Regions from separate parts of the Homo sapiens genome. Here region 1 is linked to region 2. Evidence: fine-mapped expression QTL. A gene starts in region 2. The other region holds a variant in brackets. All regions are shown on one strand. Distances are between the middles of the regions. Region 1 holds the start of LOC102723798 (a long non-coding RNA gene). Region 2 holds the start of POLR2E (RNA polymerase II, I and III subunit E).

The links. PIP is the estimated chance that this variant, and not a neighbour inherited with it, causes the effect. A credible set is the group of variants that fine-mapping cannot tell apart.
Region 1: its variant is the best candidate, but not a certain one, in a credible set for the expression of POLR2E in whole blood (INTERVAL, PIP 0.62).

Annotation. Positions count from the first base shown.
Region 1 is chr19:1,151,672-1,167,388 of GRCh38, forward strand. It overlaps SBNO2 (strawberry notch homolog 2), which reads right to left. Exons shown (of 32, transcript NM_014963.3): 2 at 2,513-2,731. The coding sequence starts at 2,605. It overlaps LOC102723798 (a long non-coding RNA gene), which reads left to right and starts at 11,780. Exons shown (of 4, transcript XR_007067079.1): 1 at 11,780-11,860; 2 at 12,280-12,375; 3 at 13,351-13,539; 4 at 15,070-15,717. The variant G/A (reference allele first, on the strand shown) is at 8,022.
Region 2 is chr19:1,090,021-1,099,033 of GRCh38, forward strand. It overlaps POLR2E (RNA polymerase II, I and III subunit E), which reads right to left and starts at 5,355. Exons shown (of 8, transcript NM_002695.5): 1 at 5,239-5,355; 2 at 3,884-4,058; 3 at 1,772-1,887; 4 at 888-968; 5 at 67-125. The coding sequence starts at 5,295. RefSeq lists enhancers at 4,006-4,541, 5,299-5,388.

The sequences.
Region 1 (15,717 bases), 65 kb after region 2:
CCTTATTTTGAGACGGAGTCTCACTCTGTCACCCAGGCTGAAGTGCAGTGGCACGATCGTGGCTCACTGCAACCTCCACCTCCCGAGTTCAAGCGATTCTCCTGTCTCAGCCTCATGCGTAGCTGGGATTACAGGCGCCCGCCACCACGCCCAGCTAACTTTTGTATTTTTAGTAGAGATGGGATTTCATCATGTTGGCCAGGCCGGTCTCGAACTCCTGACCCCAAGCAATGTGCCCACCTCGGCCTCCCAGAGTGCTGGGATTTCAGGCGTGAACCATTGTGCTGGCCGGTGTATTTTTATTTCTAATTGAATACTCTGGGCACTGGAAGAGGCTGGGCTGTGCGTGTGCGAACTCAGTCGACCCTGCCCAGAGGTGTCCATGACGTACCCGAATGTGACGGAACCCGGAACAGGGAGGGTGGGATGAGCCTCACACACGGGATGGGGAGCAAAGCCGGTTACGCGCACGGGTGCGCCCCGGCCTGAGCCCTGTGGCTGGTGTCCAGTGCCCCCGCCGGGTTCCAGCCCTGTCGCATTCCCCGACTGTCACTGCTAACACCTTCCTGCTCCCGCTCGGATCCTTGAAGATGGCTCCTCTGTCTCCACATCCCATAATTCGCTTAATTATTTCCCCACCGTAGAGCCTCTGGGGAGATTCCAGTTTCCTGCCACTATAAATAGTGCCGCTCTGTCTTCCCCTCCCTCCTGGATTAGTCCCCAGGGTGTGTTTCCGAGATAGAATTCTTGGATCGGAACAAGCTCCTGGCGGGTTTCGGGGGATGGAGCTGTTCCGGTGGGGATGTGGCTTGGCCAGTCCCCTTTATGGTGGCCCAGGAGGCTGACCGACGGCCGGTACTCGAGCTCCACCGGGGCAGCTGTGAGGATCCAGCCTCAACCCCAAGGGACTCAGGAACTAGGGAGGGGGACAGGAGGGGTCTGGGCCGCAACAGGGACCCTGCTACGAGAGGGGTACCCTGGCCCCAGCTCAGAGCCCCCTCTGGACGGTCAGAACATGGCAGGAAGCTGCCCAAAGCCCTCTGAGGATGGACTGCCGAGGGGTGTCTGTGATGTTCGCCCCACAGGCCAACCTGGGTGTTGGGCTAGGGAGTACCCAGGAGACCCTGGAGTCCTGGAGCAGGTCCTGCTGCTTGATAGGAGAGGGCAGCCCCTCTGTCTCCAGGTAAATCCCCAGGCAGGGCCGGGCGCGGTGGCTCACGCCTGTAATCCCAGCACTTTGGGAGGTCAAGGCAGGCGGGTCAACTGAGCCCGGGAGTTTGAGACCAGCGTGTCCAACGGGGCAAAACCTCATCTCTACGAGAAAATTTTAAAAATCTGCCGGGCATGGTGGCGCGTACCTGTGGTCCCAGCTACTCAGGAGGCTGAGGCAGGAGAATCACTAGCCCAGGAGGCAGAGGCTGCAGTGAGCCGAGATCGCACCACTGCACTTCCAGCCTGGGCAACAGAGTGAAACCGTGTTTTAAAAATAACAAAACAAAATAAAATAAAATGAAATAAAATAAAAATAAATATATATATACACGTTTATATATTTTTAATTTAAAAATTTTTTTTTTTCTTTTTGAGCCACAGTTTCGCTCTGTCACCCAGGCTGGAGTGCAGTGGTGCAATCTCTGCTCACTGCAGCCTCTGCCTCCCAGGTTCAAGCGATTCTCCTGCCTCAGCCTCCCAAGTAGCTGGGATTACAGACACCTGCCACCACGCCAGGCTAATTTTTTGTATTTTTAGTAGAGACAGGGTTTCACCATGTTGGCCAGGCTGGTCTCAAACTCCTGACCTCAAGTGATCTGCCCGCCTTGGCCTCTGAAAGTGCTAGGATTACAGGCGTGAGCCACCGTGCCAGGCCTATTTTTCATTTTTTTGAGATGGAGTCTCACTCTTGTCGCCCAGGCTAGAGTTCAGTGGCGCCGTCTCCACTCACTGCAGCCTCTGCCTCCTAGATTTAAGCAATTCTCCTGCCTCAGCCTCCCGAGTAGCTGGGATTACAGGCGTCCGCCACCACGCCTGGCTAAGTTTGGTATCTTTAGCAGAAGCGAGGTTTCACTATGTTGGCCAGGCTGGTCTTGAACTCGGGACCTCAGGTGATCTGCCCACCTCCACCTCCCAAAGTGCTGGGATTACAAGCACGAGCCACTTGGCCAGAAACATATTTTTTAAGTAATTCCCTCACTGACAGGTTCCTACAAGTAAAGTTGAGCCCCCCCTACAGCTGACGGCGAAGGAACTGGAAGCTCTGCAGCAGGGAGAATCTCCTCAAATGTGCTTCTTGAAAAGCTGGGGCCATGAGTAGCCTCCCATTCACATCCCCATGGGGACCCTTCTCCAGGGCCCACGGGGGCGGGTGGAGCCGGGCTCCGGGCCAGGAAGGTCAGGTGGAGATCACGCCGCGTCCACTGGGGCAGCATTCCGCACGACGTGACCCCGGGCACTCGGAGCGGGGCAAGTGCCCGTGGACCCCGTCGGGTGGGCCGGGGCCGGGGGTGGGGCTCACCTGCAGGGGCGGCGGGCTGTACAGGAGGCTGCCCGCCGGCGGGGGTTCATGCTGCGGGTAATCCCTGTCCATGGCGGGCCCCACTGCAAGCATCGGGCGGCAGGCGGGGTGGGGTCCTCGGCCGGGCAGCAGGCGGCGGGACTCCAGGACCCGGGGCCGCCGGGGCGTCTATCTGGGCTTCTCGCTCCGTGGTGGCGGCGGTGGCGGCAGCATCATGATCTGCAGAGGGAGACGGGGACGTCCTGAGAGTCCAACGGTGGTGGAGAGTGGTGCTCCCCGGCCGCCTCTCCCTCGGGCATGACCGGTCCCAGCCTGGGCTGCAGCTCCTGCTACCTCCTGGGCCGGAACCAAAAGGCGCTCCTTCCCCTCCCCACTCACCCCCACCCGCCATCAGCAGTGCCACCCAACTCCTTTGTGCTGCCCACAGCGCCTTTCCTGGCCTCCCCGGCCCCAACTACAACGATTAAGGTGGGCCCGACAGGGCTGCCCAGGTCACAGGGCAGCCGTAGGACCAGGCACCCAGACTGTGAGCAGTGGAGCTGCAGGCTGACTCCCCCACATCTGGCTTTGTCAGCAGCCGGTGTGAGACTGTGGAGGGAGAGTCCAACCCGGGCCCGGCACCCAGGGGAGCCCAGGGGACACTGGACCCAGCCCTGTCCCTCAGAGGCAGCAGGGGCTCCACAGTGAGGTCTCCCAAGGAGGGGGGTCAGGGGCCACGCAGAGCTGGAAGAGCACCCAGACCTCGTTTCAGGCTAATCACACACCAGCATCCCCACTGAGAACGTTCCTGGGCTACAGAGCCGAGCCCCACACCATCAGACGCCAGGGACAGCTCCCACGTGCCCCGCGGCCTCTGGCACACGGCCAGACGCCCGCCAGGCTGAGCCCCCACCAGGCCCTACCTGGCGAGTGCAGGGACCCAGGCTGGCCCGTGGTGGCAGGGAAAGCTTTCCAGGCGTCCGCCCAGCATGCTCACTGCCGAGGGCGGCAGGAAGGGGAGGCGGCGGCCACTCCCGGCCAAGCCCTGGAGTGAAGAAATCTCCGGGACTTCCAGTAATTGCCGTCCAGCCACACGCAGGCACTTGTGCAATCCCGTGGGGGAGAGGCACGTCTCTGCCCGGCGCTCCAGAGACAGTGGCCGGGCAACAGGGGCTGGGGGTCGGGACTCCTGTCCCAGAGACCAGATGGAGGTGGTCAGGCACAGTGGGGGTCACCCTGCCAGGCCGTCCCAACTGTCCGCGGCCTCTGCCTGCTCCCTGCAGTCAGGACGCTACAACCCACTGCCACCAGAGCTGGGACCCTTGGCAGCCCTTCCAGCTGCCCACGGGGACCTGCGACACCCTTGCCAGAACGGCCCTTTAGGGGAAGGGACAGGCCCGCTGGGATCTGGGGTCTTGGCCAATCCTTGTCAAAGATTCTGGGTCAGGCAGGATCAAAGCCTGGCTCCACCTTCTGAGTTGAATAACCTCAGACACCCAAGCTCCTCCAAGCCTCGGTATGTTCCTCTGGGAGACAGGTTCTCTGGGTAGAGCCTGGGACCCCCCGACCCCGGCCCCGTGTGCTGGTGGCCACAAACAGCTCTGCTGGGCCCAAGGCAGCTGCTGATACCGGGGTCCCCATCCAGGGGCCCACCAGTGCTAGGGGGTGGCCCACCCCCTGCCTTGGGGCTCAGCAGCCCCTCCCCTGCAGGGACTCCCCTCAGCTCCTGTCAGCACCCCTTCCTGCTGCAGGTTCCATCTCACGGCAGCCACAGCCCCAGAGCTACGCTGACCTTTTCCACACTCAGGGCGCTCCTCAGCTCTGAGGCCACACAGTCCTGAGCTGATGGGCAGCAGGGCCCAGGCCCCACGGTGGACGGAGCTTGGGGAGGGGGCACCTTGGGCAGCTCTGGGGCGACCCCATGACCGTCCTCGGGGTACACCATAGCTGAGGGACCCCTCCAGCAGCAGGGGCCCTGAGCTCGCCTGTGTCCGAGTCCCCTAGGCCAGCACGGTGCTCCTGGCAGCTCCTCCCTCCCTACGGTCTCTGAGCCCCCCACGTCTGTGGACGCCCCTTCCAGGCGGCAACCCCAGGAGGCTCAGGGGACCGGGTTCTTCAAGGGGAGGGCTTCACACATGGCATGTGACCTGGAGTCCATGCCTTGGGGACCTGGCAGGGTGTGGAGACCTGGACCGGGAGGGGATGGGGGCAGGAGAACAATGCGGACACCAGGCACAACCAACCAAGAGTCAGGGCCCAAAACCAGGAGGCGGAGGCGGAGGCGGATCCTCACACACGGCTGCTTGGCAGTCTGGGATTCCTCAAGAGGCTAACGCTGGAGTCACCACACCACCGAGCAATTCCACACCACACAGAAACGTGGCCATGCACGTCCACAGCAGCACCACTCACAACAGCCACCCGAGGAAGCAGCCCAGTGTCCACGGATAGGCGAGTGGACCAGCATGTGGCGTGGCCCATCCACGTGCCAGAACACGACACAGCCATGAACAGCAGCGAGGCCGACCTAGGCCACAGCGCAGACGCACCTTGAGGACGTCACGCTCTGTGAGAGACGCCAGGCACAGATGTGTGTGATCCCACTACTATGCACTGTCCAGGACGGGCCCATCCAGAGACAGAAGGGGATGCGTGGGTGCCGGGCTGGGGCGACCCTGCACCCGGGGCCCATTTCCAAGTCCCCCCACAACCCAACACTTCAGGCTGTGCCCACTCCTGAGAACGCCCACCCTCTGCAATCCCCCAGGACCCGCCACTCCTGAGAACGCCCACCCTCTGCAATCCCTCAGGACCCACAGCCCTGCCTTTCCGCCCACTGCCAGCCCCCCATCGCCTCCCACCCTGTCCTCGGCCATATCTCACAACCCCTGCTGCCCCGATCCCCAGGCCCTCCCGCAGCCCCCAGCCCCTAGCCCTGCCTGCAGACTCGGTCCTGTCCGAGGGCCCACGCCCCCAAGGGCTGGCTCCCACCCCATGGTCCTGAGCCCTCCGGACCCTTCCCCCATTGACTCCGCCGCCGTTTCTTGCAGCAGCTGTGACCACGCCATGTCTCTGGGGCATCCAGCTGCCCCAATCCCCAGGATAAACCCTAGTGGGACACTGGGTGGGGTCTTGGGGCCTGAGAACACCCCAACGCAGCCTCTGCCACGCAGCCCCGGAGACGCTCTCCCCACGCGGCCCCGGAGACCCTCTGCCACGCAGCCCCGGAGACGCTCTCCCCACGCGGCCCCGGAGACCCTCTCCCCACGCGGCCCCGGTGACACGGCCCACCCCGAGCCTCAGAGCCACGGGCCAGCCAAACGTCCAGCGGGCAGCAGAGCGTGTCCCCTGCCTGGTTTTATTTTTGGGCGCGAGTCCCATGACTGGAGGGATGCGTGGTGTGGGGGTTGGGGGGGCGGGGGTCACACGGTTCCCACCTTGGGAGGGGGCCCGCGCTTTATCAGCACGCTGACACCCAGAGGGGATGTGGCTTCCTTCTGAAATCAGGTCTTCAAGGGAGTCGTTGTAAAAGAGAACGATGAAGGTGCTGGTGGCCCAGACAGGACAACCACTGGGAAGGCAGAACCTCAGACAGGACCAAGATCCGGGAGAATCCGAGGAACCGGGTAACTGTGTCCGCCTCCCAGCTCTCTCCTGAGTCCGGGTAACTGCGTCCGCCTCCCAGCTCTCTCTCTTGAGTCCGGGTAACTGCATCTGCCTCCCAGCTCTCTCTCCTGAGTCCGGATAACTGTCCGCCTCCCAGCTCTCTCCTGAGTCCGGATAACTGTCCGCCTCCCAGCTCTCTCCTGAGTCCGGATAACTGTCCGCCTCCCAGCTCTCTCCTGAGTCTGGGTAACTGCATCTGCCTCCCGTCTCTCTCTCCTGAGTCCGGGTAACTGCGGCCGCCTCCCGCCTCTTTCTTCTGAGCCTGCTGAAGTCCCCGTCTTCCTGGCTGGACGCCCCAGGGTCTCACCCCACGCTGTGCAGCAACAGCTCAGCCTCCTGATGTTCAGAACTGGCCACTGTGCGGACCCTCCCCCTGGGGGTCCCTGAGCACCTGTCGTGTGGAGCCCCTTCGCGCGCTCCGCCCTCAGACCCGAGCCGTCTGCAGATGGGGAGCTGTGTCCTCGGAGCCCGGTTCTCCTGCCGTCCTCTCGCCGAGCAGGGTTGTGACCCCCGCACTTTCGGATGTGGACACGGAGGCCCCTAGGTGGAGCCTTGACGTGACCCCCAGAGCCAGACTCAGCAGCTCAGGCCACGCTGTGCCCACGTTCGCGACGGCAAAGCGGAGACCCTGAGAAGACACTGGCCGCAGAGCCATAACCGAGACCACGGGAGGACCCAGGGCGCACGGCACACCCCAGAGCGCTCCGCCCAGGCCCGGGTTCTGGTCTCCTGGCACACCCGGCAGCATCTCAAGGCCTGCGCCAGCAAAGGCGGACATGGAGGTCTGAGGAGGAGGCGGCGAGGCCCGGGCGAGCGGGCGCGACCGTGGTGATGGAGCCCGGCAGAGGCCACCGCACAGTCCCTGGAGGCCGCATTACCTCAGCCGAGGTTCTCCGGGCAGGCACAAGGCGCTCCCTGCGTCCCAGGACCTGAAGATGGCAAGGAGCAGGCCCCCGGGTGTCCCGGGAACCCCGCACAGAGCCACGGCCATAAGACAGAGCGGACTTGCGGCCTCCGGTGACCTCACAGCCGTGATGGCCTCCTGCAGCTGTGACCGCCGCCCCACAGCCGCGACCCCACCTGCAGCCGTGACCCCACCTGCAGCCGCGACCCCACCTGCAGCCGTGACCCCACTTGCAGCTGCAACCGCCGCCCCACGGCCGTGACCCCACCTGCACCCGCGACCCCACCTGCAGCCATGACCCCACCTGCAGCCATGACCCCACCTGCGGCTGCAACCGCCGCCCCACAGCCGTGACCCCACCTGCAGCTATGACCACCGCACACTGGCCTCCAGATGGGCTCAAGACAGGGCAATCACCCTCTACCTGGCGGGCGCACAACTCGCATCCTAGGACCGGGTGCAGGGGGCGGGGGCTGGCGATTTCACAAGGCTCAGCTAATATGGGGCAGAGAGCCCTGCAAGCTCAGGCACCTGGGCAGGCCCCAACTCGGCCGCCAGGACCGTCTGGTGGGGAGGACACTGCAGGCCGTCTCAGGTCCTGACCCCTGCAGACAGAGCGCTTCGTCCCTCAACATGGAGCCCGGGGCAAGGGAGGCCTGAAGGGCTGGAGCCAAGGGAGGGTCAGCCCAGTGAGAGACCTTGGGGGGACGGGGGTAGCAAGAGGGGGTAGCAAGGGACAGTTGGGGACAGCAGGGGACAGTGGGGGGACAGGGGGCAGCAGGGGACAGTTGGGGACAGCAGGGGACAGTGGGGGGACAGCAGGGGACAGTGGGACAGCGGGGGAAGAGCAGGGGACAGTGGAGGGACAGCAGGGGACAGTGGGGGGCAGTGGGGGGACAGCGGGGGATGGTGGGGGGACAGCAGGGGGACAGTAGGGAAACAGTGGGGGATAGTGGGGGG[G/A]CAGCGGCGGATGGGACAGCGGGGGGACAGCAAGGGACGGGGTGACAACAGGGAGACAGCGGGGAGATGGGGACAGCGGGGGGCAGTGGGGGACAGTGGGGGAACAGCGGGGGGACAGTGGGGGGACAGGAGGGGACACATTCAAGACATCCGTGAGGTTCCCCTACTCCTGGGCCAAGGTGCCTGCCTGAGAGGACTTCGCCCCCCACAGAGCTGGGCAGTGGCAGAGGAGGGGGCCAGGGAAGGGAGGTGGGTGAGGGAGACCCCAGAGTGTCCGGCGCTGCCCCTGCCCACGCCAGTGCTGCTCTCTGCAGCCATCAGCCTCCGGGTGCCCCCGCCTGCCCCGCCACGCGGCCACATTCCCGCACCACCCTCTCACACGTTCCACCCCAGGGGCAGCACCCGCCCTCTGGCTGTGGGTGCTGGTGGGCAGCTTGCGCCTGGCACCTGTTTGTGATGGGGGAAGCTGCCCCGGCAGCGAGGCTGAGGGAGCGGGAAGGGCTGGGCCTGGCAGAGGAAGAGCAGCCGCTCACCCACATCCCTGCAGCCCGGCTGGGGCCCAGCAAGCCGCTCACGGTCCCCAGGCCCTCATGGGCAGCCCCCCACCCACTGGGTACATCCAACTTCATGCACCAAGAGCCCATGAAGAAACCACTCCCACACCCCTGCCCAGGCCTCGGGGGGTCTGCGGGGCGGCCTCACAGGAGGCCCAGTATTACAATGGCGGCCGCCTGGCTGCAGTGAGTGCCTGGTGGACACCCCCGAAGGGCAGTGGGGAGACCCGGGGGAGGACGCACAGAGGGTGGCTACAGAACAGAGGCAGCTGGCTGGAGCCACCGGGGGTCTCGTCCCTGCAGCCTTCGCCTCCTGGGTTCCAGTGATTTTTGTGGACCCACTGGGGGTCTCGGCTCACTGCAGCCTTCGCCTCCTGGGTTCCAGTGATTTTTGTGCCTCAGCTTCTGGAGTAACTGGGATGACAGGCACCCGCCACCACGGCCCGGATAATTTGCGTATTTTAGTAGAGAAGGGGTTTCACCATGTTGCCCAGGCTGGTCTCGAACTGCCGATTTCAGGTGATCCGCCCGCCTCGGCCTCCCAAAGTGCTGGAATTACAGGCGTGAGCCACCAGGCCCGGCCCGAATGGAAATCATTTTCATAGTAACATGAATCTCTGTAACTCACTAGACTGTGGCCAGGGAAACCTGTGGGCAGCTCTGCCAGGACCACAAGGGGGCATTTGCTCTGGACGGCCCCTCCCAGGGTGGGCAGGGCCCGAGGACGGAAAGAAAGGGTGGAGGGTCCTGAGGTGCTTCCCAGAAAGCTCAGGCTGCTCCTCCAGCCAGGCACAGCCAGACCGGGAGCACCGGGAGGTGGGGGTGGGGGTGCCTGAGCACTGGAGGCTGGAGGTGGGGGTGGGGGTGCCTGAGCACTGGAGATGGAGGTAGGGGTGCCTGAGTACTGGGGGTGGGGGTGGGGGTGCCTGAGTACTGGGTACTGGGGGTAGGGGTGCCTGAGCACTGGGGGTGGGGGTGGGGGTGCCTGAGTACTGGGTACTGGGGGTAGGGGTGCCTGAGCACTGGGGGTGGGGGTGCCTGAGCACTGGAGATGGAGGTAGGGGTGCCTGAGTACTGGGGGTGGGGGTGCCTGAGTACTGGGTACTGGGGGCGCCTGAGTACTGAGTACTGGGGGTGGGGGTGCCTGAGTACTGGGTACTGGGGGTGCCTGAGTACTGGGTACTGGGGGTAGGGGTGCCTGAGTACTGGGGGTGGAGGTGGGGGTGCCTGAGCACTGGGGGTACCTGAGCACTGGGGGTGGAGATGGGGGTGGGGGTGCCTGAGCACTGGGGGGGTGGAAGTGGGGGTGGGAGTGCCTGAGCACTGGGAGCTGGGGGTGGGGGTGCCTTCCTGTCTCAACACAGCTTTACCTCTTGGGCCCGATGAAGCGGGTCTCAGGATGCCCAGGACCCACATTTTAGGAACGGCCACGTCATACTACGCTTTCTACCTCTCCTCTTGAAATTTTCTAAAAGTTCTCAAGTCTGCTGCCAAGGTTATCAGAACTGCGTAGGGAGCTGTGTGGGTCACCTGTGAGGCCCGGAGCCTCCCTGACGCAGGTGGTGGGTGTCATGGCTCTGCTGTCTTGTGAAAGAGTCGTCAGTCAGGCGGCAGGGCCAGGAGGGTGAAAGCCGATCCACTCCCTTCCCTGGGGAGCCGCGGGGGGGGGGGGGGGGGGGTTGGGCCAGGCCTGCGGGGAGGAGCCGACATACAGCTTCCCCAGCAGCCGGCCAGACAGACGGACGTCCTGGCCCAAGGTGAGCGGGCACGGCCACAGATGGCGCCTGGGGCCTTTGCAGGCGCCCTCCTGGCCCCGAGGCTGTGGGGCTCCTTTGTGGGGGACACAGGGCTCAGGGACCACTCCACACCCTAGACGGGAGCAGGGATGGGGTCTTTTAAAGTTAAGGTTTTATTCTTTTTTAAAATAATACAGCCGGGAACAGTGGCTCACACCTGTAATCCCAGCACTTTGGGAGGCCAAGGCGGGTGGATCACGAGGTCAGGAGATCGAGACCAGCCTGGCTAACACGGTGAAACCCCGTCTCTACTAAAAAATACAAAAAATTATCCAGGCGTGGTGGCGGGTGCCTGTAGTCCCAGCTACTCGGGAGGCCGAGGCAGGAGAATGGCGTGAACCCGGGAGGCGGCGCTTGCAGTGAGCCGAGATCGGGCCACTGCACTCCAGCCTGGGTGAAAGAGCGAGACTCCGTCTCAAAAAAAAAAAAAGAAACGCTGTTGGGGGCAGGAGCCTGGATCTCAACCCCTGCAAGGTGGAAATCTGGCTTCCTCTCACCCATACGAGCCTGCCAGAGGCAGGAGGCTGACGCCCCGGAGGGACCAGCTGACATCGGCCTTGAGGGACCAGACTTCTCCAGGCCGGCAACCTTCTCCCAGCTTTGTGAGGTGGAGCCCAACCTCCAGACCAAGAGAGGCCTTCCTGACCTTCAACCCCATCTCCAGAGCTCCCCAGAGCTGGTCTAGCCCCTCATCTGACACACAGAGAAACGGAGACCAGGAACCTGACGCTGGTTTCCCTAGCCCATGTGAGGACCCTGTAGACCAGCTACATGCACACCCAGTCCAGCCGCCGGACAGCGTTCAGTGGGAAGAGAGCAGACCATCGTCCACCCACATTCCAGACTCCAACTGGCAGAGGGGAGGGGACGTTGGGGCTGCAGGGCCACCAATGTGGACGGGACAGAGCCCCAGGGACAGCCTGTGCTGGGGACGTATGGGGGCAGGATCAGACCCCACAGTGCCTGCGGGCCACAAGGCCAAGACAGGATCTGGTAAGTGACGATTTGGAGGCTGGTCCTGAGGTGCAAGAGGGAGTGCCAGGGACAGAGAGGGCACCGGGGTGACTACAGTCCCTCCAGACTCACATCTACCCGCACCTGTGGGTGGGGCCTTATTTGCATACAGGGTCTTTGCACACGTGGTTGGTTACAATGAGGATGCTGGAGGGGGTGGTCTGTGTCCCTGTTAACAACTCATGTCCTTAAGAGAAAAGAGGAACGTGGACACCCACACATCGGGAGACGGCCGCATGGAGACGGAGCAGAGGCTGGAGTGACGCGGCCGCAGACCAAGGGCGCCTGGAGCCCCGGAAGCTGGGAGGGGCAGGAAGGGTCCTCCCCTGGAGCTACTCCTTGACCTCAGCTTCCTGTGGCCTCCAGGACAGGGACAGGCTGCTCTAAGCCACCCAGTTTGCAGCACTGCTGCGGCCGCCACGAGAAGCTCGTCCAGGGAGGAGGCTGCTCCAGCCCTGAGCCCCACGCGACTCCCGTGAGCACGAGGACTCGGGTGCCCTGGGGTGAGGCGGCACGAGGCTGTCTGTGGATTTCCACAGCATCCCAGGAGGCGTCTGGACCGCAGTGGCTCCAGGCTGCCAACCACGGGCAGAGGCCACCGCTCCCGAGCTTGGACCCTGCCACGCGCAGGCACAGGCCAGGCGGCGCCGGGGAAGCCTGGGGGCCCCAGACCGGCCCAGCACCGCCTGACATTTCTCAAGCATGCTGGGGGACGGCCCCTCAATTTAGGATGAGGACGAGGTGGGCCCGGCAGGAGGGCAGGAGCCGGGGTCCAGGGCGAGCAAGTTCTCCCCGCCCCACGAGGAACGGCAGTGGCCCCGGTTGCCTGGAGGTGGAAGGGGCACTGCAGCCTCACCGCCCCATACCCCAGGAGCCCACGTGCTTCTCTCACAGGGAAAGGTGTACTGGCCAGACTCAGCGCCCTGAGGACGGGGTCGGAACCCAGCGCCCAGGAAGCTCCCCTCCCCCCGACCAAGGACCTCCCTCCAGGTGGGTCCTCTGGAAACTCAGGCCCGCGGCCATCACGGCCCCTCTCCTGGGAGGGCTCAAGGGTGTTGGCCGTGGGGGCTTCACACTGCACCCCGATTTCGAGGGAAGCCCCTGCCCATGGCTTCCGGGGCCTTCCGGAGGGGCCAAGGGGCTGGTGCCATGGGAGGGAAAGTTCCCAAGCTCGGAGATGGCCAGGAGCAGGAACAGCTTGAGCGGGTGGCCGAACTGACAGCTTCTCTTGCCAAACCTCCTGTCCTGCTCCAGCACAAAGCCTCCCCCGTGCACAGGAACAGGTGCTAGGACACTGTGGGGACGTCCCAGATGCCAGGGGCAGTGGAGACAGGAGGAGGAGGAGGAGGAGGAGGAGGAGGAACAGGAGGAGGAGGAGGAGGAGGAGGAGGAGAAACAGGTGCTAGGACACTGTGGGGACGTCCCAGATGCCAGGGGCAGTGGAGACAGGAGGAGGAGGAGGAGGAACAGGAGGAGGAGGAGGAGGAGGAGGAGGAACAGGTGCTAGGACACTGTGGGGTGTCCCAGATGCCAGGGGCAGTGGAGACAGGAGGAGGAGGAGGAGGAACAGGAGGAGGAGGAGGAGGAGGAACAGGAGGAGGAGGAGGAGGAACAGGAGGAGGAGGAGGAGGAGGAGGAAGAACAGGAGGAGGAGGAGGAGGAACAGGAAGAGGAGGAGGAGGAGGAACAGGTGCTAGGACACTGTGGGGACATCCCAGATGCCAGGGGCAGTGGAGACAGGAGGAGGAGGAGGAGGAGCAGGAGGAGGGAGGAGGAACAGGAGGAGGAGGAGGAACAGGAGGAGGAGGAGGAACAGGAGGAGGAGGAGGAACAGGAGGAGGAGGAGGAGGAGGCACAGGAGGAGGAGGAGGAGGCACAGGAGGAGGAGGAGGAGGAACAGGAGGAGGAGGAGGAACAGGAGGAGGAGGAGGAGGAGGCAGCGGCGGCACTGTGGGTCTTCCACAGGGTGTGCCCGGAGGAGGTCAAGACTCCACTGCCCTGAAGCAAACAAGGCGTCCAGCCCGAGCCAGGGTCACACGCCCAACAGGTAGGATCCAGCAACCCCTGCGCAGCAGCCCCCGCCATGCGAGGGAGGACCCGGAGTTGAGCGTGGCCCTGCCTGACATCTGACCCCGCCGTCAGGAGCTCCACCAGGTCAGGGCTGCTCAGCTGACCCCACAGCCCCACCAGGCATGGTCAGCACGGTGCCGAATGCAGGCCTGGAAAGGGAATAAAGGAGGCCCTGGGGAGGGGCCTTGGTGCTTCATCCCAAGCCAACCCCGAAAGTGGAAGCCACAGGGCCAGGGGGACGTCGTGGCTGAGATGCGAGCAGGGTGCCGGGCACCCCCAAGGCAGCACTGCTGTCCCTGAGAACAGAAGGAAGTCCAGGCCCAGAGTCAGAGCCAAGTGGAGTAGTGGTGGTTGCTGGCACTCAGTCCCGTACCCTTGGACAGAGCAAGAGTCCCAAGCCAGGAATGTGAGGCCGATGCCTTTTAGGAAGAAACCACATCTGGGGAACCAGACCCCAGATCCCAGAACCCAGACCTCAGATCCCAGATCCCAGATCTCAGACCCCAGATCCCAGACTTCAGATCCCTAGATCCCAGACCCCAGACCCCAGTACCCAGACCCCAGATCTCAGACCCCAGACCCCAGATCTCAGACCCCAGATCTCAGACTCCAGACCCCAGATCTCAGACCCCAGACCCCAGATCTCAGACCCCAGATCCCAGACCCCAGACCCCAGATCCCAGACCCCAGATCTCAGACCCCCAGACCCCAGATCCCAGATCTCAGACCCCAGATCCCAGACCCCAGACCCCAGATCCCAGACCCCAGATCTCAGACCCCCAGACCCCAGATCCCAGATCTCAGACCCCAAACCCCAGATCCTAGATCTCAGACCCCAGATCCCAGATCCCAGACCGCAAGATCCCAGACCCCAGATCCTAGATCCCAGACCTCAGACCCCAGACCCCAGACCCCAGATCCCAGATCCCAGACCCCAGACCCCCAGATCTCAGATCCCAGACCCTAGATCCCAAACCCCAGATCTCAGACCCCAGATCCCAGACTTCAGATCCCCAGACCCCAGATCCCAGACTTCAGATCCCCAGACCCCAGATCCCAGACTTCAGATCCCCGGATCCCCAGATCCCAGACCCGAGATTCCAGACCCCAGATCCCAGACCCCAGCCCAGAGGGAGGCCCGGTGAGGGAGTGGAAAGGAGATTCCACGACACAAATGCTTATGCGGAAACAGCCTCCAGGCCGGGCTGCGGGGCTCCAAAGCAGGGTCCCCATGCTCCGAGCGGGCCTCACTGCTACCTGGCGGTTAAAGGCCTGTCCGCCTGGACAGGGTGGTGCGGCTTTCTGTGGCAGCCAAGCAGCTTCCACGCGGCTTCTGCTGCTGTGAGGAGCCCGCTCGGGTCTTGTGTTTATTTTCAGTCTTTTGGGGCCAGTGCGGTGGCCCGTGGCTGTAATCCCAGTGCTGGGAGGACTGCGTGAGCCCAGGAGGTGGAGACCAGCCTGGGCAACAGAGCGAGACCGCAACTGCACGCGCACACACACACACACACACACACACACACACACGCTAAAAGCCACACACGCTAAAAACCTTTTAACATGCTGAGCTTGAGCCTGTGGTCCCCTCTAACCTACACGTCTTTTTCTCCTGAGCAGACGTTAAGCTAAATCCCCACTCACTCCAGACTTCCGGTCCTTTGAAATGGAGGTGCCCTTGTGTGTCTTCAATCCATGTGGAGGGTAGTCTGGCCCATCCCACACCTGCTACTGTCACTGCCTCACATCAGCGGCCTCAGGCCACAAGGTCTCCCCACCTGGCTCCTTGGGGAGTGCCAAGCGTTGCCAGCAGCCGGGCTATGCTGATCCCAGACAAGTGGCTCGACCGGTCACCACTGTCCTTGAGCTTAAGTCCAGCCTTGGTGACAAAAATGTCACAAGGACCTGCATCCGAGCCCTGAGGGCATCAGGTCCTGGAGGAGGAGGAAGAGTCCCTTCTGGCTTCGGGCTGGGCTTGAGGACGGCAGCTCCAAGACCGCTTAGAGCGAGACTTCAGCGCTGACTGCTGGAGCTACGCACCCTGTCCTGACAATGGCCGCACAGTTAGGCGCTGCTCCACGCCTGGAGGAGGGAACTGAGGGCCCGAAATCACAGAAGCAGGAACTCCAGGTTCGCCAGTGCGGCCTGATCCACCTTCCCTCAAACGTAGCTGCTGACAACGACACCCACGCGCCCTCTCTGGGCCCAGCAGGTCAGAGGTCCAGGTGGGCTGGCTGCTCCACGGCCACGGCTCCAAGGCCAAGGTCA
Region 2 (9,013 bases):
TGGGGGGGGAACGCGGAAGTCTCGAGGGACAGGGAGGGGCGGGGCCGGTGGGGCTGGAAAGGATACTATCGGGCCAGCAGCTCTGTCACCTCCTCCTTGGTCATGACGACGTGCTCAGGGACTAGCTGCCGAGAGAGGAAGCCACCAGGCATCACCAAGGGCTGGTGAGACCCCACGTGGCTCCCAGGTGCCACCACAGCCCCTGCGCCTTCAGACGGACAAGAGCCCTGAACCCCACCCCGATCCCCGGCACTCAGGGAGCCCACCCACCCCACCCTGGCTCCACAGGCGGGGGACGGAGTCACAGCTCCTGGGGCTTCTGAGGCAGACGGGCTGGGCACAGCCACCTCCTGCTGGGACTCCTCCTGTCCCAGCACTAGGGTCCCTCCACACTCCCAGCAGTCCCGATTCTACAGGCTGGGGTGGGCCCGGGATCTGCATTTTTTTTTTTTTTTTTTTTTTTGAGATGGAGTCTTGCTCTGTCTCCCAGGCTGGAGTGCAGTGGCACAATCTCGGCTCCCCGAGTAGCTGGGACTACAGGCGCTCGCCACCACGCCTGGCTAATTTTTTTGTATTTTTAGTAGAGACGGGGTTTCACCGTGTTAGCCAGGATGGTCTGGAACTCCTGACCTCGTGATCCGCCCGCCTCGGCCTCCCAAAGTGCTGGGATTACATGTGTGAGCCACCGCGCCCGGCCGGGATCTGCATTTCTAGGAAGCTCCCGGGTTCGGCTGCTGCAGGCCCAGGGCCACCCTTTGAGAACCCTGTCCTCCATGCACTAATAGGAACACCTGCCCTGGGCCCCAGATCCCACATCTTCCTGGCCACCCACAAACGCTGCATCTCTGCCGGCCCCACGCAGGCGGGATTCCGCGGCGCGCGCCCACCTCGTGCTCCGTGATGTTGATGAGCAGCTCCTGCTGCAGAAACTGCTCCAGGATGTACTTGGGGGCCATGTCGACCAGGGACTGGAAGAGAGCGGCTCTAAGGCACGGCCCGGAGGGGCCCAGACAACCCCAACCCCATTTCCTGCCTCAAGCTACCTGGGGCTTACTCGTGTGCCCCAACAACACACCCACGTCGTGAATCAGAAAACCCCACCGCCAGCCCAGGAGCCTTCAACAGCCCGCCCCTCCCCAGCCTCTCTGCTCATCGAGAGCCTCATCCAGCAGTGAAGTGGCCGTGGAAACTCGGATGTGTTTCCATCCATCACACGCTTCCAGGGGCGGCCCTCAGAGCTGGCAGGGCGACCTCTTCCCCATACAGGGGTGCTGCTCTGTGTGGCTGCGTGAACCCCACAGCTGGTGGGCCAGGGACTAAACTGCTCTGCTGACTGCCCGTCACAGCACAGCAGCCTGGCTCCAGAGTGTCCGACAGACAGACGGGGAACACGGATAGGCCCCTGGAGGACCCCGTGCCGGGCCTCCTCTGCAAGTCCCCCTGGACATCAGCTCAGGATAAAGAACCTCCGGCTCCTGGAATCTGCACCAGGCCGAGGGCTGGAGCCCACAGGAGCTGGCGAGAGGCACAGTGCCCTCCGCCCTGACGCCCCTCCTGAGAGCTGGGGGAGGACGGCGGCTGCCTGGGGTGGGGCCCATGGACGCGGTGGGAGGGAGGCGGTCGGGGCTTGCCGGACATCCCGGCCACATCCTCCAGGGCACCCTGGCTGGCCTGGCCCAAAGCCCAAGGCACGTGGGCCGCCTGTGGGTACTGCTTGCGGGAGGAGGCTGGGGAGGGGGAGAGGCTGGCGGGGTGGGGCAGGGGTGCCCACCTGCTTGGCGGAGGGTGTCATGCCCTGCTGCACCACGATGAGAGCCCGTGTGATGTTCTCCTCCTGCATGCGCTGGCAGTACACCTTGATGGTCTTGATGCCCACCTTGGGCTCCTCTGCAGACAGAGAGTGTGCTGGCCTGCACGAGCCTGGGCCCTCGTGGCCCTCGCCCACCCAGAGCCCAGAGCACCCAGGTTCCAGCCCCATTCCACACAGGTGTCTCTCCTGCTCGGGCCTCGGCTTCCGCGTTTGCAAAACGAGGCCTGAGTTGCAGGATCCCAGGACAGGGGAAGAGAGGGCTGAAACCTCTCATTCACCCGGAGACAGGGACAGGGGGCTGACACCCCTCAGTCACCCAGAGACCAGGGAGAAGCAGAGACCTTCGACTCTGAGAGGCTCCCACCCTGGGCAGTTCTGGGGAGGCGGGTGACTCAGCACCAACCTCTCCAACAAGCAGACCTCACACCCCAGGACGCTCTCTTTAAGAAGCATCACCTGAGGCCGGGTGCGGTGGCTCACACCTGTAATCCTAGCACTTTGGGAGGCTGAGGCAGGTGGATCACTTGAAGTCAACAGTTCTAAACCGGCCTGGCCAACATGGTGAAACCCGGTCTCTATTAACAATACAGGATGGGCGCGGTGGCTCGCACCTGTAATCCCAGCACTTTGGGAGGTCAAGGTGGGCAGATCACGATGTCAGGAGATCGAGACCACCCTGGCTAACAAGGTGAAATCCCGTTTCTACTAAAAATACAAAAAATTAGCCCACGCCCGCAGTCCCAGCTACTCGGGAGGCTGAGGCAGGAGAATGGCGTGAACCCGGGAGGCAGAGCTTGCAGTGGGCAGAGATTGCGCCACTGCACTCCAGCCTGGGCAACAGAGCAAGACTCTGTCTCAAAAAAATTAATTAATTAATTAATAAACAATACAAAAAGAAAAAGTAGCCAGGTGAGATGGTGTATGCCTGTAAACCTAGCTTTTTGGGAGGCTGAGGTGGAAGGATTGTTTGAACCTGGGAGGTGGAGGTTGCAGTGAGCTGAGATTGCGCCACTGCACACTCCAGCCTGGGTGACAGAGGGAGACTCAGTCTCAAAAAAAAAAAAAAAAAAAAAGACTGGGCGCGGTGGCTCACGCCTGTAATCCCAGCACTTTGGGAGGCCGAGGCGGGCGGATCACCTGAGATTAGGAGTTTGAAAGCAGTCTAGCCAACATGGTGAAACCTCATCTCTACTAAAATGCAAAGAAAAACTAGCCAGGCGTGGTGGTGGGTGCCTGTAATCTCAGCTACTCAAGCTGAGGCAGGAGAATCGCTTGAACTCAGGAGGTGGAGGCTGCAGCAAGCCGAGATGGCACCACTGCACTCCAGCCTGGGCGACAGATTGAGACTCTTTTTCAAAAAACAAAAACAAAAAAAAAACAAAAAAACCCAGCAGCGTCACCAGGTCCGGTTGGCAGACGTGCTCCGTCACCCCACTGATTAATTCTGGGCGTGGGGCTGCGCCCCTAAGGCGCTTGCAATCCCCCAACCGCTGAGGGCTTTAGAGCCATACTAGGGAGGCAGACAGGTGCGGAGACTTCCGCAAAGCAGGTGCTGAAACCGAGGGTCCCAGGGGTCCTGGGAAAAGAGGCCCGAGCACAAGCTCGAGGGACGAGTACCGGACGCTGACAGGGGAGAGGGGGCATGGGGTGCGGAGGAATGGGCTGGGGCGGGCAGGGGCCGCAGCTCACAAGGAGGCTGCGCTGACCCAGACGGGGCCTCCTGGGCCAGGCCAAGAAGCTGGAAGTGCACCCAACGGCCAGGATGGGGGAGCCAAGGGACACTAGGGCAAAGGACATGGGGGGCTGGGGGTGAGTGGGGAGGCCCTTGTGACTCTCCTCGTTGGCAGGAAGAGAGAAGGGGACTGAGAGGGAAACTAGAAAGAAGCTGAGCATGAGAGGGGTCAGAGATCAACGGCATCACCCACAGCAAGGAAGGGGAGGGGAGTTTTCCTCCCAGACTGGGCAGAGAGACAAATGCTGGGCACCAGGCGAGTGGGGGTGGGTGCTAGCGACCGGCTCCTCGGCAGGTGCTCTGGTGGCTTCACCGGAACTCCCCCGGGACCCGCTGCTCACCTGGAAAGAACACAAACATCTGGTCGGTGGGGTCATCGTTGTGGGCCACCAGCACGGTGAGGTCCGTGCGCCGCGGCCGCCCCTCACTCGGCTTGTCCCCAGATTGGGCTTTGAACTCCTCCAGGGTCTGGTCAAGCTCGTCCTGGGTCACCAGATAGCCACGGTCGTGGCACAGCTGCAGAGAGAAAGAACCAGCTGACCCCAGGGCAGAGAGAGGAAGGCGGCCAAAGCTCGTGACCCGGAAGTCAGACCTGCGGCTGCTGCAGAGGACAGAGGTGAACAGCAAACGGGATGAACACTCACTGTGTGCTCCATGACAGCCACCCCGGCCCCCACAGCCTCACACCACAGGATGGGACCAGTATGATCCTGAGAGGCTCCCAGAGATGTCCAGCCTTGACCAAGACCGTCTGTCCACCCAGCCTCACAGAAACCTGGCAGGGAGCAAAGCCCTCCAAACCACTTTGCAGAGCTACCCTAAAGGCAGGGACAAAGGCGGGGCGCGGAGGCTCACGCCCGTGATCCCAGTACTTAGGGAGGCTGAGGCAGGAGGGTTGCTGGAGGCCAGTTCAAGGATGCAGTGAGCTATGATTGCACCACTGCACTGCAGCCTGGGCGACAGAATGAAACCCTATCTCTTAAAAAAAAAAAATGACAGGGACCGAAACAGATGTGACTTCAGGCTGACAATGTTTGAGGATCGGAGAAAGAAGAATCAGGCTGCGGGGGGCTTCGCTGAGGACAAGGGCAAAGGGTGGGAAGCAAGACAAAGCAAAAGCTCTCAAACGGCCCCAATGGCTGAGGCAATACCCTGAACCGCAGGTCCTCAGGCCTGTGCCCGGCTTCCAAACCGGACTCGACCCAGTGGCCTCCATCTGCCCCAGACCCCAAGGCACGGGTTCCGAGCTCCACGTCCCCATCGAAAGCCCCAGCTCGCCCGCTGCTTCCCAACCACCAACTCTGCCAGCCTCGGATGCTGAAGACTCCATGGGGTTCAGGACGCAAGGACAAATAGCGACGCTGAATCACAGAGAAGGGCAGAGTCTGGGGGCGCCCCCCGTCCCCATTCGCGGCTTCCTCCTCCTCTCGCCGCCACGCGCGCCGCACCAGCCCAAGCCGCCCACCCACCCCTAAGCACCGCACCCAGACGTCTCGAAACCCCCTCCCTTCCCCGCTGCCGGCTCAGGTCGGGTCCAGCGCCTGGTATCCCCGGCGACCTCTGGGCCTCCCGTATCGGCCCGGCCCTTCATCGCTGCTGCTCCGACGAGAGTACGAGGAGACGCCGTGCTCGACCCCACCTCGGGCCCCTACACCCGCCGCCCGCGCCCCCGCCCCCAACACCAGGCGCGGCTCACCTGCATGATGGTCTTGCGGATTTTCCAGAGCCGGTACGTCTCCTCCTCGTCGTCCATGGCAGCCTCCGCCGCCGCCGCCGCTCGCACCCCTTCTCCGCGCGAGAACCCGCGCGGACTGCGCCTGCGCCGAATCCGAATCAGGCCCCCTCCGCCTAACCCCGCCCCGCGCTGGTCTGTCGTCGGCGAATGCCTGAATGCAGCAACGTCTCGGATCGGCAGCGCCAAGGGCAGCCCGAGCCTTACGAGAGCGGCAGTTGGCTGAGCGAGTCTCTCGCCTCCGTAGTTCTCGTGTGTCTTTGGCCGCACAGCCTCTCGGGAGTTGTAGTTTCCGTTCAACTCCCACCTTGGAGCAACAGTTTAGAATCCCACGAGGCGGGGGCGAAGTGTGAGCGGGGAAACTGAGGCCTGGATGGGGTCAAGGGGCAGCTCGGCTCCTAGGGATGGTCTGGGAGCCTAGTGGGAACTCTATAAATATTTGTGCATCAAACTGTACAGGGTTTCCTCCATTGGCTCCTGGCCAGGTCAGGGTTAATTCCCTTGGGCCTCAGTTTCCCTACCTGTGCAATGGCAATAAAGTGTCCCTACTTTAGACGGTTAACTGAGAGTCTTAGGCATCTCTCTAGGTGCTTATTAAGTCCCCTCACCTCTGTCCTCTCCCCTGAGCGCCACCAGCCTAGCCTGGGTATCTCCCCAGCCTAGCCTGGGTATCTCCCCACCCCAGACTCTTCCTGTCTTTGCAAACCTCCTCACTTCCCCAGGTTCACGGAGAACCCCAGCCCAACACTTCCTGTGTGCAGGCTATCAGTAACTTATTCAGTGATGCATTCGTTAATTCAACATTTACTCAGCAACCTACAGTGATGGTGAATAAAACAGGCCAAGTATCCCTTGCATTCAGATAAAGACAGGATTTAGTAAAATATAATAAATAACGTGGCCGGGCGCGGTGGCTCATGCCTATAATCCCAGCACTTTGGGAGGCTGAGGCGGGCAGAGCATGAGATCAGGAGTTCAAGACCATCCTGGCTAACACGGTGAAACCCCGTCTCTACTAAAAATACAAAAAATTAGCTGGGCCAGGTGGCAGGTGCCTGTAGTCTCAGCTACTTAGGAGGCTAAGGCAGGAGAATCTCGTGAACCTGTAAGGTGGAGGTTTCAGTGAGCCAAGATCGTGCCACTGCACTCCAGCCTGGACAACAGAGCAAGACTCTGTCTCAAAAATAAAATGAAATGAAATAAAATAAAATAAATAACAACGTTAGAAAGTGACAAAGCTACGGAAGAAGAAAGAGCAGGGAGGCTAAGTGACATGGGGAGAATGGGAGAACTGCAGTATCACATGGGGAGGTCAGGGAATACAGTGAGGATAGATTCAAGCAAAAATCCCATTAGCAGTGGTGGCTCATCACTGTAATCCCAGCACTTTGGGTGGCCGAGGCAGGCAGAGCATGAGATCAGGAGTTCCAGACCAGCTTGGCCAACATGGTGAAACCCTGTCTCTACTAAAAATACAAAAATTAGCCAGGTTTGGTGGTGGGTGCCTGTACTCCCAGTTACTCGGGAGGCTGAGGCAGGAGAATCACTTGAACCCGGGAGGCGGAGGTTGCAGTGAGCCGAGATCGCACCACTGCACTCCAGCCTGGGTGACAGAGCAAGACTCCATCGAGAAAAAAAAAAAAAAATCCCATTGGGCGCGATAGCTCACACCTGTAATCCCAGCACTTTGGGAAGCTGAGAGGGGAGGATCCCTTTGTTGTAGTTTTGTAATTTTTAGTTGTAAGTCACGGACTTTTTTACACTGATATTTGAGATTCTTTTTGGGGGGCTGTCAGGGGCTACTTTTTTTTTTTTTCCTGACACGGAATCTCGCTCTGTCCCCCAGGCTGGAGTGCAGTGGCAGGATCTCGGCTCACTGCAAGCTCCACCTCCCGGGTTCACGCCATTCTTCTGCCTCAGCCTCCCGAGTAGCTGGGACTACAGGCACCTGCCACCACGCCCGGCTAATTTTTTGTATTTTTAGTAGAGACGGGGTTTCACCGTGTTAGCCAGGATGGTCTCCATCTCCTGCCCTCATGATCCGCCCGCCTCGGCCTCCCAAAGTGCTGGGATTACAGGTGTGAGCCACCCCGCCCGGTCTGTGCAGGCTTTCTTATCTAACTACCTAACTTTTCTTTCTCACCTTGAGGCCAGGAGTTTGAGACAAGCCTAGGCAACATAGGAAGACCCCATTTCTTTTTTGTTGTTGTTGTTGTTTTTTGAGACCGAGTCTCGCTCTGTTGCCCAGGCTGGAGTACAGTGGCATAATCTCAGCTCACTGCAGCCTCCGCCTCCTGGGTTTAAAGGATTCTCCTGCCTTGGCCTCCCGAGTAGCTGGGATTACAGGCGTGAGCCACCACACCTGGCTAATTTTTTTGTATTTTTGGTAGAGATGGGGTTTCACCATGTTAGCCAGGCTGGTCTTGAACTTCTGACCTCAGATCATCTGCTTGCCTCGGCCTTCCGAAGTGCTGAGATTACAGGCGTGAGCCACCGCACCCGGCCAGGAAGACCCCATTTCTACAAAAAAATTTAAAAATTAGCTGGGCGTGGTGGGCGCACCTGTAGTCCCAGTTACTCGGGAGGCTGAGGTGGGAAGATCTAGGATCGCCTGAGCCCAGCGGTTGAGGCTGCAGTGAGCTGTGATTGCGCCACTGCACTCTAGCCTGGGCGACAGAGCAAGACACTGTCTCCAAACAAACAGAAAACAAACAAAAACCAGAAGAGGAGAGGGAGGAAACCTGGGGTTGCCTGGGGATAGCTGTATCAGGCAGACAGCACAGCCAGGATAGAGGCTCTGGGGCTGTGCCTCACCTGGAGTGTTCCTGGCAGGGAAGGGGCAGGAGGGGGTCAGAGGGCAAGGTGGGGCAGGTCCCATGAAGCCTTGCTGGTCAGGGTAAAATGTCTGGAGCTGCTGTGTTGGGAAATGACTGTTGGGAGCCAGGGCAGAAGCAAGAGACCAGGGAGGGAGTGGGAAGGCAAACTTGCCACAGGTTGGGGTGGCTCCAACTACGGTAGGGGCAAGCACAGAGCGGGGAGGGTGCCACAGGGCGAGAAAAAGAGGGAGAAAGGGAACAAAGCTGTCCCTGTGAGCAGTGAAAAGAGGGGTGGGAGGGTGGAGGCGTGTAGGTCGAGGTGAGCTCTGGAGTTCAGGGCAAGGTCTGGGGGATGGACGTGCAGGCAGGGTGGCCACGTGGTGAAGATTAGAGCCGGGAGCCTGGACCAGGTCCTGGGAGCAGAGCAGAGTCCAGGAGAGTAAGTCCAGCCCTGCTGGTGTTCAGAAGCCCGGAGAAGGAGGGGAGGCAGCAGCAGGAGGGGAGGGAGGCTCAGCACAGACACTGGAGCAGCCCCTGAGCTGCAGACCTGGCTGTGTGATCTCAGGCAGGTTACTCAACCTCTCTGTGCGTCCCCTCTCCCCTCCCTTGTAAAACAGGGACAAGAACAGCACCCACTTCGTAGGGTAATTGGCTAATAATTGCAATGTACACAGAGTGGCGCCTGACACCAGCACTGCATAAGTGTTCCCTAAATAGGATAAAGGGCAGGAGGTTGCCAGGTCTCCTGGAAACCTGGTGAGGAAGGTGTCTAGGGGCAGAGGGAAGGGAGTGGCTATGTGATGCCACCGCCAAGTCAGCCTGAGGACTGAGCAGGGATTCGCCTAGCAGACATTGCTTGTGACTCAGGGAAGGGGGCCAGTGCCTGGCAGGACGGATTTGAGGGAGGAGAGGAATTGGAGATG